2 separate regions of the Homo sapiens genome follow, and region 2 is linked to region 1. Evidence: fine-mapped expression QTL. Tissue or cell type: Th17 cells. Region 1 holds a variant in brackets; the other region holds the start of a gene. All regions are shown on one strand. Distances are between the middles of the regions.

Region 1 (8,341 bases):
TTTTTTGGGGGGGCTTTCCCTAACCAAGTTTTGCCTTGTACCTGCTTCTCTTAACCTTTACCTCATACAAGACCAGCTTGTCACTGCTCCTTATGCCTCAAACCCGTTATCTACCTTTGTGCTTTGACAGATGCTATCCTTCTGCCTGGATATCCATTTCTGTGTATCTTCTCACCTACACTGGCATATCTTTAAGAGCTTTTCTTTAAATGGTCTCTGCCACAAAATTTGTCATTTAAAGGCTATATTCTCTTTCTCGTCTTCCATTCATGCATCTTCATATAGACTGTTGTCTTCTTCAATGTTGGGATTGTTTTACTTCTTTTATTAACAATCACCCACCCTACCCTTCCTAACCATGGCATTCTGTACAGAGCAGGGCATGTATCAGGTTCTTAGTAAATTATTTATTGATATGAATGAGAGCTATAGATAGTTCTATTATGCAGTGTACCCAGAAACAACTCTCATCAATAGTCTTTACATTTGTATTGATTGTTTGTAGTATACAGGTTTCTAAAATTGAAATGAGAAATTATAATCATGTAATGTTGGAGTACATGGCGAGATAGCTCACTTTAGTCTGCAACCCCTGAGCTCAAGTGATTCTCCTGCTTCAGCCTCCAGAGTAAATGGGACTACAGGTGTGCGCCACCTCTCCTGCCTAATTTTTAAATTTTTGGTAGAAATGGGGTCTCACTGTGTTGAGCAGGTTGGTTTTGAACTCCTGGCCTCAAGTAATCCTCCTACCTCGACTTCCCAAAGTGCTGAGATTACAGATGTGGGCTACTGTGCCCGACCTTGGCATACTTTATTAAATAGAAACTTGAGGCCATGTGGATGTCATTCTTGGCTAACACTGAAAAGATACCTGGCTTCTTCTTGATTTGGTTTCCTTCTAATGTGCCAAAGAATAAATTATCCCTCAGTGTGTTAGGAAAGCAGGGCTTTAGTTCTGTGTTGCCTCTGAAACATTTCAGCTGTGAATGAACCACATCTCGCATTTGTTTCATACTTGTCATAGGAATCATAGCATAGTTTCTGCTCTGAAGGGCATCTGTGAGCCTCTTGTTATAGGGCACGGGGAAAGAGTCCACATTATGGAGTTTATAGTTTACAGACTTTAATTCAGTTTGCAGCACCACTATTTACCTATCTGTGAACCTGAGCAAATGTCTCTCTATCTCAAGGACAGTAATATCTTCCTCAAAGCATCAATATTATTATGAGGTTATGCAGAATAAGGTATGTATAAGGTACTAGTTATAGTAGTTCAAGAAGCTTCAAGGATGCTTGTTAGACATGATAATAGGACTGAATTTTGAAGAATGAGAGTTTTTAGGGAAAGGGTGAGGGCGGGAGAGATTTATAGGCAGCAGAGCATCATGAGCAAAAGTACAGAAGCATGAACTGCAAAACAGCTTGGTGTTACTGTAGGACATTTTCCCAAAATGTTTATATATATTGTACAAGAAAGGAATGATGTCTGTTTGATTTTCACTTAAAAAAGGAAGCAACAAAACAGTTACTGAAATATTTCCCTTTTGAAAAAATAGCTTAGCAAGTCTGATTGTATGCATATTTTCCAACTGTTTATTATGAACATCTTTAGATATGTAGAAGAGTTGAAAGAAGTGTACTGAACCTACCACTAAAAATAATGATGAAACAGTAGCATTTAATTATTATTTTTTTTTGCCTCCTCTTTCACGCCCCTAAATGTAACTATATTCTGAGTCTCTTCTTGGTTCTCTCTTTTTCCATTACATTTCCTTTCTTTTATTAGGCAGCCTCTTCAACTGTATAGCTTTACTTATAAACTACATATGGCTAACTCCTAAAGTTATTTATCTCTGTAGCTGTGACTCTTCTGCCAAGGACTTATAACTGCTGTATAACTGTATAACTACCTGGCTGTTCCACTGGCACTTACAACTTAATTTATTAAAAACTGAACATATTTGTTCTATCCATTAAATCTACTTCTTTTTTTTTTTTTTTTTTTTTTGATATGGAGCCTCACTCTGTCTCACGATCTCAACTCACTGCAACCTACACCTCCTGGGTTCAAGTGATTCTCGTGCCTCAGCCTCCCGAGTAGCTGGGATTACAGGTGCCTGCCACCGTGTCCAGCTAATTTTTATATTTTTGGTAGAAATGGGGTTTCACCATGTTGGCCAGGCTGGTCTTGACACCCTGACCTCAGGTGATCTGCTCACCTCGGCCTTCCAAAGTGCTGGGATTACAGGCATGAGCCACTGCACCTGGCCCATTAAATCTACCTCTATAGATTTCCTACACTTCTTATTTGCACTGTCACCTTTCCAGTTACCCAGGTGGGAAACTTTGGATGTGTTGACTCTTCCTTTCTCTTCAATCGATATATCCAATTATTTTATCAAATTTATCTTTTGAATATCTTAACAATTTTGAGCTTGCCAGGTTCTCAATTTAGAAAGGCTTGCATAGTTTTCTTTCACTTATTGAATAAAGTCCAGACCCTTTCATTGGTACTCAAAACCTATCTTGGTTTCATATCAACTTACACTCCTGGACTTATCTCTTACTAATGCCCTGAGAGGCCATCATTTTAGGTACATTTGAACTGGATTAATTGTATTCTCTGATTATGCCCATCCCTTTCTACTTTTCTGCTTCTGCTCACCTTGTTTTCTGCCTAAAGGAACTCTTTTCAGTCTTTTCCCATTTCAGTCTTTCATTTCAAAGTTTAGCTCAAGTAGTGCCTCCTTTATGAAGTGCCTGCTTCCTACTGCCAAGTGTATGATACTTTACACTGATTATAACACCTATCACATTTTGCCTGGTACCTTAGTTCTCTTAGTATATCTTAATATCTTCTGTTTGACTATAACTGTATGGAAGGCAAGGATCATAAGGTACTCAGTTTGTATACCCACTACTACCACCACAACACACTTAATAGTATGTACCAATAGTATGTACCTACCAATAGTAGGTACTCATTAAATATTATAGTGAGCAAAAAGATAAATTTAGGTTGTATTTCCTCTTCTTTCTTTTGCTTCCTTCTGGCCTGGAGCTTTGGTAGTGAGATGCCATGATGACATACTCTAATATCCTGTGTAAAAGTAGATGTCCATTATAGGATTTTCTATTGCTATAAGTGGCAGCTGTCATAGTGTGAAATCTGCCTAAATTGGGAAGGCATGGAAAGTCTCAGGTAGTATAATTGTATTGCAAATCCGTATCAGTTTTGAAGATTTCCCTACTCCCCTTTTAAACATAAAGATTTATATTAAAGAAAAGTCTCTTAATAAGAGAAATACTGGCAATTGTGTTATGACATTTGGAATTCACATGAAAAGGATCAGCTTCAGGTTATAAAAACAGTTTGGTATTTCTTTTTTAAAATTTTGTTGATACAGGTGTGGTGGCTCATGCCTGTAATCCCAGCACTTTGGGAGGTGGAGGCAGGCAGATCACTTGAGGTCTGGAGTTCGAGACCAGCCTGGCCAACATGGTGAAACCCCATCTCTACTAAGAATACAAAAATTAGCCAGGGATGGTGGTGCATGCCTGTAGTCCCAGCTACACGGGAGGCTGAGGCAGAAGAGTTGCTTGAACCTGGGAGGTGGAGGCTGCATTGAACCAAGATCGCACCACTGCACTCCAGCCTGGGTGACAGAGAGAGACTCTGTCTCAAAAACAAACAAACAAAATTGTTAATACGCTTTTAATTTTTTTTTTTTTTTTTGAGATAAGAGTCTTGTTCTATCACCCAGGCTAGAGTACCATGGTGCAATCTCCACTCACTGCAACTTTCACCTCCCAGACTCAAGTGATTCTCTCGTGCCTCAGCCTCCCGCGTAGTTGGAATTACAGGTGTGCGCCATCATGGCCAACTAATTTTTTGTGTGTTTTTAGTAGAGACAGGGTTTTGCCATGTTGGCCAGGATGTTCTCAAACTCCTGTCCTCAAGTGATCTACCTGTCTTGGCCTCCCAAAGGGCTGGGATTACAGGTGTGAGCCACCGCGCCCAGCCTAATTTTTTAAATTGACAAATAATTATACAAATTAATGGGGTAAATAGTGATGTTTCAATACATGCACTGTGTAGTGATCAGATTAGGGTAATTAGCATATCCATCAGCTAAAACATAATTTCTCTGTGTTGGGAATATTCAGTATCCCTTTCTTTTTTCTTTTTTTTTCTTTTTCTTCTTTCTTTTTTTTTTTTTT[TG/G]AGACAAAGTCTCACTCTGTCGCCTGGAGTGCAGTGGCGCGATCTTGGCTCACTGCAGCCTTGATCTCCCAGGTTCAGGCGATTCTCCTGCCTCAGCCTTCTGAGTAGCTGGGATTATAGGCGTTGTGCCACCAAGCCCAGCTAATTTTTGTGTTTTTAGTAGAGACAAGGTTTCACCATGTTGGCCAGGCTGGTCTTGAACTCCTGACCTTAAGTGATCTACTTGTCTTGTAATCCCAAAGTGCTGGGATTACAGGCGTGAGCCACCACGCCCAGCCTCAGTTTAGTATTTCTGTAGCACCACTTATTTGGGCATCTGTGTTAGGATTTGTAAGTGGAAATAATAGTGGGCCTTCAAACTAAAAAGTGTACAGTAGAAAAAATAATCAACAAAACGAAAAAGCAACCCAACCCATGGATTGGGAAAAGATATTTGCATACCATACATCCAATAAGAAATTAATATCCTAAATTTATAAGAAACTCATGCAACTCAATACCAAAAATGTAAATAACCCAATTTAAAAATGTGCAAAGGACCTGAATTAGACACTTCTCAAAAGAAGAAATTCAGATGGTCAACAAACATATGAAAAGGTGCTCAACAACTCTTAGCATCAGGGCGATGCAAATCAAAACCACACTAAGATATCACCCCCCACCTGTTGGGATGGCTATTATCCAAAAGAAAAAAGATAAGCGTTAGTGAGGATGTGGGAGAAAAGAAATCCCTTGTACACTGTTGGTGGGAATGTAAATTATTACAGCTATTGTGGGAAACAGTACAAAGGTTCCTCAAAATTAAAAATAGAACTACTGGCCGGGCATGGTGGCTCATGCCTGTAATCCCAGCACTTTGGGAGGTTGAGACAGGTGGATCACATGAGGCCAGGAGTTCGAGACCAGACTGGGCAACATGCAGAAACCCCATCTCAACTAAAATTACAAAAATTAGCTGGGCATGGTGGTGCACATCTGTAATCCCAGCTACTCCGTAGGCTGAGGCAGGATAATTGCTTGAATTCAGGAGGTGGAAGTTGTAGTGAGCTGAGAGATCATGCCACTGCACATCAGCCTGCGTGACACAGCAAGACTCTGTCTCAAAAGAAAAAAAAAAAAAATAGAACTGTAAGATTCAACAATGTCATTTCTTGGTATATATCCAAAGGATTTTAAAGCAGGCTTGTGAAGAGATATTTGCACTCCCATGTTCATTGCAGCATTATTCACAATAGTCAAGATCTGGAAATAGCCTAAATGTCCTTTGACAGATGAATGGATAGGGAAAAAGTGGTATATATACACAGTGGAATAGTATTCAACCTTAAGAAAAAGAAGGAAATTCTGCCATTTAGGACAATGTGGATGAACCTGGAGGACATGTTAAGTAAAATAAGCAAGTCACAGAAAGAGAAATACTGCGTGATCTCACTTACATGTGGAATCTATAATAGTTAAATTTAATAGAAGCAGACCATAGCATCATAGTTGCCAGGGGCTGCAGGGATGCGGGTGCGGGGGTGTATGTAGAGATGTTTATCAAAAGGTCCAAAAATTACGGCAGCAAAAGAAAAAAAAGGTACAAAAATGACAACTATGAAGAGGTGACAGATATATTAATTAGCTGAAATGTGATAATTTCACAACGTATATCAAAACATCAAGTTGTATAACTCAAATATATAACATTTTTATATGTCAAATTAAATTGTCACAAAATAAAATATGTAAAAGATAAAGCAATAAATCAGGAGAGGGGGTTATGATAGATGAAACAAGATAGGCTCTATGTAAATGATGGTTGAAACTAGGTGAGGCATTCACAGGGTTGGGAGGGGGCTTATTGTACTGTTGTCTATAGTTTTGTGTCTTTGAAAACATCAATTCAGATTTGTGTTTTAAAGGGAAAAAAATAATAGTGGACTTGGATTAATGCCTTACCTTTGTAGTAAGGATTTTCAGCAGAGAGAATTTTAATCATTTGCATATACTAGTCAATGTAAGGCATGGAGAATGTAGGCATTAATTTCGTATGGCTTTTCTAAGGATACTGGAAGGAAGAGAATTTAAAATCATGTTCTTTTCAAAAGACTGAAGTCCAACTCTGTGGCTGTCCGCGCTGACAGGTGGGGACAGAGCCCCACCTGACTCAGCCTCACACTCACTTGGCATGTATCAGGCTACTTTTACTGGGGCTTTAGGTGAGAGTGATAAAACGGTTCTTACTTGATTTGGGGCCCTTAAGCAGGTTGCTGCTCTGGGATTAGGTTGTCTTATAAAAAGGTAACTCACCACGCATAACAATGCTTTTTCCTGTTTAAAGAGAGACCTAGTTCTTCTATCAGATGATTTCTTAAGGCAGCATGAAGTAGCCAGACACAAAAAGAGTTAAGATCCAAGCTCTACCAGTTATTAGCTGTGTGATCCCTAACAAGTTATTTAACTTAGAACTCTGGTTTCTTTCTCTGTTTAAAATGGAGATTAAAAGATCTAATTATTGGGGATGTTATGTGAAAGTGGTTTATGCCTGTGGTTGTCTTCTGTTAGGCACTTCATGAATTGGAATGTTTCCTTTTCGGTCTATGATAATGTTTTTTTCAAAATAAATAACTTAGGCCGGGCGCGGTGGCTCACGCCTGTAATCCCAGCACTTTGGGAGGCCGAGGCGGGCGGATCACGAGGTCAGGAGATCGAGACCATCCCGGCTAAAACGGTGAAACCCCGTCTCTACTAAAAATACAAAAAATTAGCCGGGCGTAGTGGCGGGCGCCTGTAGTCCCAGCTACTTGGGAGGCTGAGGCAGGAGAATGGCGTGAACCCGGGAGGCGGAGCTTGCAGTGAGCCGAGATCCCGCCACTGCACTCCAGCCTGGGCGACAGAGCGAGACTCCGTCTCAAAAAAAAAAAAAATAAATAAATAAATAAATAAATAAATAACTTGTTCTTTCAAATTGGGATTTTTCTTAATTTTGAAAATTTCTTAACTTTGAAATTTTATTGTTGGAACTAACATCTATTGTAGAAAAGGAAATTGTTCAGTTTTCAGAATGTCATTTTATAATTATAAAAGGAGATCTCACTTTGGAGAATGAGTGAGCCTTGTTTAATGTAGAAATAATGCCTTTTGCCCATATTCACCTTTTAGTATCTGGCAGCGAATCTTTTATGTAACAAATAATCAATAACTTTACCTTTTTTTCTTATTTATACAGATAGTACACATCCTAAATATGACTTCTGCAAAGATAATTTCTTTTCTGTTACCACCTGATGAAAGTCTTCATTCACTACAGTCTCGTATTGAGCGTGAAACTGGAATAAATACTGGTTCTCAAGAACTTCTTTCAGAGACAGGAATTTCTCTGGATCCTCGGAAACCAGCCTCTCAATGTGTTCTAGATGGAGTTGTAAGAAAATTAATTATAATATCCCTAGAGTATGTGAAATCTAGAGGGATTGCGTGCCCTGCAATTTTTATGCATACTTGGAATTCCTTGGGAGGCCGCACATTTTGTTTTGGTTTTGTCCTTCTCCCAACTCTTATCATTGCTTTGCAAGGTGAACAGGATAGAAATGAAACATTTGTTGTTTTGAACTTTGCAAGACTTTTTCTTTGGTGCCAGTTTTCTGCTCCTGTTCCCAGACCAAACTGAGGGTCAGGCTGCTTACTCTCGCGGCCCAATAACGAGATGCAGATGAATTGGGAGAGATGGGAGTTTTTATTTCTGTAACCAGTTACAGGTAGAAGGCCTGGAAATTACCGCCAGACCAACTCAAAATTACAAAGTTTTTCCGTAGTTTATTTATCTTCTAAGCTATATGTCTATGTGTAAGTTTGCATTCATCTAAAGACATAAGTGATTAACTTCTTTTAATCTGTAGCTGAGGTCTGAGTCTTGAAGACATTCCTCTGGAGCCTCAGTAAATTTACTTACTCTAAATGGGTCCAGGTGCTGGGGTGATTACCCTTATCTTGTCTCCTATTAAATCACAGAGGTTTAAGGAGTTCCTTCAGACCCCCAATAAACTTGTTTGTGGAGGCCTGGGGTTTCTTCAGACCCCCAATAAAACTTATTTAATTCTGAACGGGTCCTGTTAAGAATTCCTTTGTTATTTTGCT
Region 2 (8,341 bases), 55 kb before region 1:
AAATTTTTGCCCAGATCAATATCTTGGAACATTTCTCCAGTATTTTCTTCTGGTAGCTTCATAGTTTCATGTGTTAGGTTTAAGTCTTTATCCATTTTGATGCGATTTTTGTATATGGTGAGAGATAGAGTTGAGTTTCATTCTTCAGTATAGGGCTATCCAGTTCTCCAAGAATCATTTATTGAAGAGACTGTCCTTTCCTCATTGAATGTTCTTGGCACCTTTGTACTTTTGGTATTGACATAAAATGAGTTGGCTGTAAATGCATGGATTTATATATGTTCCATTGGTCTATGTGTCTATTTTTATGTCAGTACCATACTGATTGGGTTACCATAGCTTTGTAGTAGATTTTGAGGTTGGGCAGTATGATGCCTTCAGCTTTGTGCTTTTTGCTCAGGATTGCTTTGGCTCTTTGGGGTCTTTTGTGGTTCCATATAGATTTTAGGATTGTTTTTTCTATTTCTATTTCTGTAGAGCAGCAGTCCCTAATCTTTTTGGCACCAGGGACCGCTTTTATGGAAGACAATTTTTCCGTGGACGCGGGGGGATTTTTTTTTTTAATGGTATGAACCATATTTATTGAAAACATTATTTCTGGCCTTTCTCAAATTGAAGACTGCAAAAAATAAAAGCAGTGCTTTATTGAGTTGTCATTAACCTTGAGAGCAGTGGCGCTGCCTCTCCACGCTCTGGGGACGGTGGAAACCGTGGCTGGTGCGTGCCACATCTATCACACCTCGGTCTACAAAACAGTCCTGACGTCAAATAAAACTATTGTGGCCGGGCGCGGTGGCTCACGTCTGTAATCCCAGCACTTTGGGATGCCGAGGCGGGCGGATCACGAGGTCAAGGAAATCGAGACCATCCTGGCTAACACGGTGAAAACTCGTCTCTACTAAAAATACAAAAACAAAATTAGCCAGGCATGGTGGCGGGTGCCTGTAGTCCCAGCTACTCTGGAGGCTGAGGCAGGAGAATGGCGTGAACCCGGGAGGCGGAGCTTGCAGTGAGCGTAGATCGCGCCACTGCACTGCAGCCTGGGCGACAGAGCGAGACTCAGTCTCAAACAAAAACAAAAACAAAACAAAACAAAACAAAAAAAACAAACGCTCGTACATGACATTTACATTAGAAAAAGAGAGCTGAAAGTAGGGATGGGGGGATGGTTTGGGGATGAAACTGTTCCACCTCAGATCATCAGGCATCAGATTCTTGTAAGGTACGCAGCGCCGTAGAACCCTCGCATGTGCAGTTCACAATAGGGTTCCAGCCTCTGTAAGAATCTGATGCCACCACTAATCTGATAGGAAGTGAGCTCAGGCGGTTATTCTCACTTGCCCACCGCTCGCCTCCTGCTGTGCGTCCTGGTTTCTGATGGGTACTGGTCCATAGCCCGGGGGTTGGGGATCCTTGCTCTATCTAGAGAATGCCATTTGTATTTTGATGGGGATTGGACTGAATCTGTAAATTGCTTTAGGTAGTGTTGTCTTTTTTCTTTCTTTCTTTTTTTTTTTTTTGAGACGGAGTCTCGCTCTGTTGCCCAGGCTAGAGGCTGGAGTGCAGTGGCTGGATCTCCGCTCACTGCAAGCTCTGCCTCGCGGGTTCATGCCATTCTGCTGCCTCAGCCTTCCGAGTACCTGGGACTACAGGCGCCCGCTACCACGCCTGGCTAATTTTTTTGTATTTTTAGGAGAGACGGGGTTTCACCGTGTTAGCCAGGAAGGTCTCGATCTCCTGACCTCGTGATCTGCCCGCCTAATTCTTCTAATCCATAAGCGTGGAATATCTTTCCTTTTTGTGTGTGTGTCCTCTTTCATCAGTATTGTATAGTTTTCCTTGTATAGATCTTTCATTTCTTTAGTTAAATTGATTCCTACGTAGTTTATATTCTTTGTAGCTGTTGTAAATGAGATTGCTTTTTTGATTTCTTTTTCAGATTGTTTACTGTTGGTGCATATAAATGCTACTGATTTTTGTATGTTGATTTGGTATCCTGAAACTTTTACTGAATTCGTTTATTATTTCTAACAGTCTTTTTCGTGGAGTCTTTTGATTTTTCAATACGATGAGTTTTTATGTCTTACTTTTGTATCCTCTTCTGGGAATTATTACCTGCTCATGTTTGGCAAACTTCTACTCTTCTTCAAGATTCAGTCTTGAGTGCTACTCCTGGGCAGTGCTGTATTATCCAAAGAGTAGGAAAAAATGCATGCTTATGTGCCAGCAAAGCAGAGCCACCAGTTATGAGGCAAGAAACAAACAAAAAAGAAGGCTTGTAGGCTGTGGGAAAAGCCAGAACTTTGTAGTTTTGTTTGGTTATTGAGACAGGGCTTGCTGTGTCACCCAGGCTGGAGTGCAGTGGCAAGGTAATAGCTCGCTGAAGCCTCCATCTCCTGGGCTCAAGTGATCTCCCCACCTCAGCCTCTGGAGTACCTGGGAGTACAGGCATACGGCCACCATGCCCAGCTAACTTTTTTTTTTTTCTTTTTAAATTTGTAGTAGAGACGAGGTCTGGCTATGTTGCCCAGGTTGGCCTTGAACTCCTGTTCTCAAGTGAACCTCCCGCCTCAGCCTCCCAAAGTGCTGGGATTACAGGCATGAGCCACTGTGCCTGGCCTGTAGTTCTTCTTTAATCTTATGTTTTATTAATTTTGAATTATTTAGATGCCCTTGATGAGTCTTCCTTTCCCCGCAGTCGTCAGGAACTCTCTCTTGTTTCCATTTCCTTACACACTTGTTTCCTACCACTTGGCCTGAACCCTTCAAAAAAGTCAATATTACAAAAACTAAAACCAAATAGGTAGGAGGGCTTTTGTAGATTAAAATAGAGACAGAACCAAATGCAAGTGTGAAACTTGATTGCATCTGAATCAAAACAAGCCCCAAATATAAAATCAGTTTGTAGGGAAATATGGAGAACTTTAAATATGGATGTATATTAGGTAATATTATTGAATAATTAATGTTAATTTTCTTAGCTGTGTTAATAGTATTACGGTTATGTAGGAGGATATCCTAATCTTAGGAGATAAATGGAGATGTATTCCTGTTGTCCGCACTTTATTTTATTTTATTTTTTGACACGGAGTCTCGCTCTGTCGCCCAGGCTGGAGTGAAGTGGCGCGATCTCGGCTCACTGCAACTTCCTCCTCCTGGGTTCAAGCGATTCCCCTGCCTCAGCCTCCCGAGTAACTGGGACTGCAGGTGCGTGCCACCACGCCCGGCTAATTTTTTGTATTTTTAGTAGAGAGGGGGTTTCACCGTGTTAGCCAGGATGGTCTGGATCTCCCAAAGTGCTGGGATTACAGGCGTGAGCCACTGCGCCCGGCCTGTACTTTACTTTCAAATGATTGAGTGAGAATGGAAGGGCTTGGGCACTTTGAGAGAAAGAGAACACAAGCAAATTTGCCAACATGCTGAGACTTACTGAATCAAGGTAATAGCCATTATTCTTTTAACTTTTTTTTTTTTAATTTGAGACGGAGTTTCGCTCTTGTTGTCCAGGCTGGAGTGCAATGGCGCGATCTTGACTCACTGCAACCCCCGCCTCCCTGGTTGAAGCAATTCTCCACCATGCCCGGCTAATTTTTGTATTTTTAGAAGAGACGGGGTTTCACCATGTTGCCCAGGCTGGTCTTGAACGCCCGACCTCAAGTGATCCGCCCGCCTCAGCCTTCCAAAGTGCTGGGATTATAGGCGTGAGCGTCCACGCCCGGCCTCTTAACTTTTTGATAGGTTAAAAACTTACAAAAAACGTGGATAGAGGGGGTCTGTCTTGCCCACTAGACCGATATGGTTAGGTTAGGTTAGGTTAGGTTAGGTTAGGTTAGAACCCGACATTGTGCTCTGTACTTCCTAGCCATTCATTCGCTTCAAGTGCTCTGAAATTTAATTTAAAAAATCATAGTTGGAATCCTTTCGGTCACTTTCTCTTTCTCCCTTCGTTCCTCCCTTTCCCTCTTGATTCTTCCTTGAGGCGCAAACACCTGAGAGAGGCTTCTGTCCCTCGGCGGTCTCCGTAAGTAAGTGAACCGTTATTGGCTGGAGGGCGCTGACGTCTGATTGTTGCGCGGTCGCATTTTTCCGGGGAGCGCGGATTCGCATTCCCAATTTTAGGTGGCAGTCGCAACCCATACTATTCGGACAGATGGCACAGAAACCGCTGCGCCTGTGAGTGACCGTGAATGGAAGCCTCTCTCCCTGTGTCTCTTTCGTGTGTGTAGGTGACGACACGGGCGGGAGTCTTTCCCATGACGGGAAGGGAGAAGGAAAAGGCGGAGAGACACGGGGCTGCTGGGGAGCTTAGGTGATGTCTTTGCCTGGCCGGGGCTGACCTCTTTTCCTGGCCCTTTTCGCTTCTGAGGGGGTTTCTCTTGGCGACGCTCGTTCGGAGAGGCGGAAGCTCCCAGAGTTAGGCCTCCTCCATCTTAGGGGGCAGTCCTGGCCTCTGACACATCCTTTCCCCTTCGTTTCTCCTGACCCCATTTATTTACTCGCCAAATAGCCATTGGGCCCACTGATGGGCCCTGGGCAGTGGTGGACAGAGTAGATAGGGACCCTTCCCTGGGGCATTTTTTTTTTTTTTTTTTTTTTGCGAGGAGGAGGGGTGGGGGTGGTGGTGAAGAGAGGGCTTCATGCAGCAAGTATTTATTGAAGAACTGCAGTGTGCCGGACGCTGTGCTAGGTGTTGCAACAGATGGAGTTCCTGCTTTAATGGAGCGTAGAGTCTAGAGGAACAGGTACTAAAGAATCCAGATAATGGGCCGGGCGCGGTGGCTGAGGCAGGAGAATCGCTTGAACCCGGGAGGCGGAGGTTGCTGTGAGCCGAGATCGCGCCACTGCACTCCAGCCTGGGCGACAGAACGAGACTCTCAAAACAAAACAAAACAAAACAAAACAAACAAAAAACAATACAAATAATGGCCGGGCGCGGTGGCTCACGCCTGTAATCCTAGCACTTTGGGAGGCTGAGGCGGGCGGATCACTTGCGGTCAGGAGTTCGAGACCAGCCTGGCCAACGTGGTGACACCCCGTCTCTACTAATACAAAAAAAAAAAATTAGCCAGGCGTGGTGGCGCGTGCCTGTAATCCCAGCTACTTGGGAGGCTGAGGCAGGAGAATCGCTTGAACCCGGAGGCGGAGGTTGCACAGTGAGCCGACACTGCACCTCTGCACTCCAGCCTAGGTAACAGAGTGAGACTCCGTCTAAAAAAAAAGGAATTCAGATAAATGTAAAGTTACCATAGTGATAGGGCCAGGCGCAGTGGCTCACGCCTATAATCCCAGCGACTCCGGAGGCCAAGGCAAGAGAATCACTTGAGTCCAGGAATTCAAGACCAGCCTGGGCAATATAGCAAGGCCCCGTTTCTACAAAAAATACAGAAAAAAAAAAAAATTAGCCGGGCGTGGTGGTCCCAGCTAATTGGGAGGCTGAAGCAGGTGGACCACCTGAGCCTGGGGAGGTCGATGCTGCAGTGAGCTGTGATCGTGCTGCTGATCTCCAGGCTGGGTGACAGATTGAAACCCTGTCTCAAAAAAAAAAAAAAAAAAATTGCAATAGTGGTAACTTTTGGGAAGAAAATATTCGTGAATCTGGGAGAGTGCATAAGAGGGGTATTTGGCTTAATGATAGGAGTCAAGAAGGCTTCCCGAGAATGTTAGGATTGAGCCTTGGGAAATAAGAGTAATCCATTGCTTAACAGCAGGGTTATGTTCTGAGAAATGAGTTGGTAGGCGATTTCGTCATTGTGCGAACATCTTTGAGTGTACTTCCAGAGACCTAGATGGTATGGCTTCCTGTACACCTAGGCTAAATGGTATAGCTGTACGTCAAGTTACTGTACTGAATACTGTAGGCAATTGTAACACAATGGTAAGCATTTTTGTATTTAAATATAGAAAGGGTACAGTGAAAACACCTGGCCGGGTGTGGTGGCTTATGCCTGTAATCCCAACACTTTGGGAGGCCGAGGTGGGTGGATCACCTGAGGTCAGAAGTTCAAGACCAGCCTGGCCAACATGGTGAAACCCTGTGTCTACTAAACATACAAAAATTAGCCGGGTGTGGTAGCGGGCGCCTGTAATCCCAGCTACTCAAGAGGTTGAGGCAGGAGAATGGCTTGAGCCTGGGAGGCAGAGGTTGCAGTGAGCCGAGATCGCACCACTGCACTCCAGCCTGGGCGACAGAGCGAGACTGTCTCAAAAAAAAAAAAAAAGAAAAAGAAAAAAAGAAAATACTGTATACAGGAAAAAAAAAAAGGGCACAACCTGTGTAGGACACTTATCATGAATGGAGTTTGCAGAACTGAAAGTTTCTCTGAGTGAGTTAGTAAGAGGTGAGTGAATGTATTACTTTACAGTATTGTAGACTTTATGAATACTGTACACTTCACCTATATTAAATTTATTAAAATATTATTTTCAACAGTAAACCTTAGTTTACTGTAACTTTTACTTTATAAACTTTAAGTTTTTTTACACTTTTTGACTCTTGTTATAACACAGCTAAGACATAAAACACATTGTACAGCTGTACAAAAATATTTTCTTTATATCCTTATTCTACAAGCTTTTTTCTATTACTTTTTTTTTCTTTTTACCTTTTAAACTTTTTTTTTTTTTGGAGACAGGGTCTCACTGTCGCCCAGGCTGGAGTGCAATTGTGCAATCACGGCTCACTGCAACCTCAACCTCCTGGGCTCAAGTGATTCTCCCACTTCAGCCTCCTGAGTAGCTGGGACTACAGGCGGAAGCTACCACACCTGGCTAATTTCTGTATTTTTTGTAGAGAGGGGGTTTTGCTATGTTACCCAGGCTGGTCTTGAACTCCTGGGCTCAAGTTACCCTCCTGCCTCAGCCTCCCAAAGTGCTGGGATTACAGACGTGAGCCACTGTGCCTGGCTTTAAACTTGTTTTGTTGCAAACTAAGACACACACACGAGTCTAGGCCTACACAGGGTCAGGATCATCAGTATCACTGCTGTTCACCTCCATATCTTGTCCCACTGGAAGGGCTTCAGTAGTAATAACATGCATGAAGCTGTCATCTCCTATGATAACAGTGCCCTCTGGAATACTTCCTGAAGGACCTGCCTGAGGCTTTTTTACAGTCAACTTTTTTTTTTTTTTTTTGAATACGTAGGAGTGTACTCTAAACAGTAAAGAGCATACCATACTGAATATATTTTTTTTTTTTTGAGATGGAGTCTTGCTCTGTTGCCCAGGCTGGAGTGCAGTGCCGCGATCTCAGCTCACTGCAAGCTCTGCCTCGTGGGTTCATGCTATTCTCCCGCCTCAGCCTCCTGAGTAGCTGGGACTACAGGCGCCCGCCACCACGCCCGGCTAATTTTTTGTATTTTTAGTAGAGATGAGGTTTCACTGTGTTAACCAGGATGGTCTCGAGCTCCTGACCTTGTGATCCGCTCGCCTTGGCCTCCCAAAGTGCTGGGATTACAGGCGTAAGCCACCGCACCTGGCCATAGCATGCTAAATATTATACATAAACCAGTAACATAGTTGTTTATTATCATTATCAAATATTGTATACTGTACATAACTGTATGTGCTACACTTTTTATAACCACCAGCCCAGTAGGTTTATACCAGCATTACCACAAACAAATGAGTAATATATTGCACTATGATGTTACAAATGGCTAGACATCACTAGGCGATAGGAATTTTTTAGTTCCATTATAATCTTATGGGACCACCATTACATATGTGGTCCCTTGTTGACCGAAACATTGTTATGTGGCACGTAACTGTATTCTTGTCTTTAACCTAAAAAGGTTATTGAAATGCTTAAGAACGCTTTGGCATGATCAAATTTTCATTTTGGAAAGCAGTTCTGTCTGCAATGTGGAGAACAAATCAGAGCCAAAGTAGAGAACAGCTGGGATTAGGTAGAGTGATGACAGAGGAATAGTTTAGGGATTCAGGGTTTATTAAGGAAGTAAAATCAACAAGGCTTGTGATGGTTTAATTGTGAGTGAAAAGGAGCTGGCCTTGTTGGGTCATAGATTTCTATCTTTATTCAGTGGGATAGAGAACAGTGGAAAAGGGCCCAGATGAGGAGATGAGGCACCTGGTGATGTATAAACTGGACAGTGGATCTCCCAGAGACAATGGTAATTCCGTGTGACAACTGCTGTGATGGAAGAAATGCAGGCTCCTATGGGAACACTAGAAATTGGTAACTGATAGGTACTAGAAGGCTTCCTAGAGGAGGTGGTGCTCAAAATATAAATAAAAGTCATATTAGTTTATGACAAAGCTTTCTCTGAAATGCTGTAATGTGGTTTTCTGAGTTTTTGAGAAGGTAATGACTTCTGAGCCA

Which allele goes with the higher level. Positions count from the first base shown, and alleles are read on the strand shown. Sizes are in standard deviations (SD) of each study's normalised expression.
As copies of TG replace G in region 1, the expression in Th17 cells of the gene that starts at base 4,106 in region 2 goes down (moderate effect, 0.60 SD a copy in Schmiedel 2018).

What was found. PIP is the estimated chance that this variant, and not a neighbour inherited with it, causes the effect.
Region 2: it holds the start of CWF19L1, and the variant in region 1 is fine-mapped to the expression of CWF19L1 in Th17 cells (Schmiedel 2018, PIP 0.95).

The regions. Positions count from the first base shown.
Region 1 is chr10:100,208,882-100,217,222 of GRCh38, reverse strand. It overlaps CHUK (component of inhibitor of nuclear factor kappa B kinase complex), which reads left to right. Exons shown (of 21, transcript NM_001278.5): 10 at 7,434-7,628. Among named protein-coding and RNA genes, the nearest start is that of CHUK, 17 kb to the left of the region's middle. The variant TG/G (reference allele first, on the strand shown) is at 4,222.
Region 2 is chr10:100,263,403-100,271,743 of GRCh38, reverse strand. CWF19L1 (CWF19 like cell cycle control factor 1) reads left to right here and starts at 4,106. Exons shown (of 14, transcript NM_018294.6): 1 at 4,106-4,173. The coding sequence starts at 4,151. RefSeq lists an enhancer at 6,126-6,375.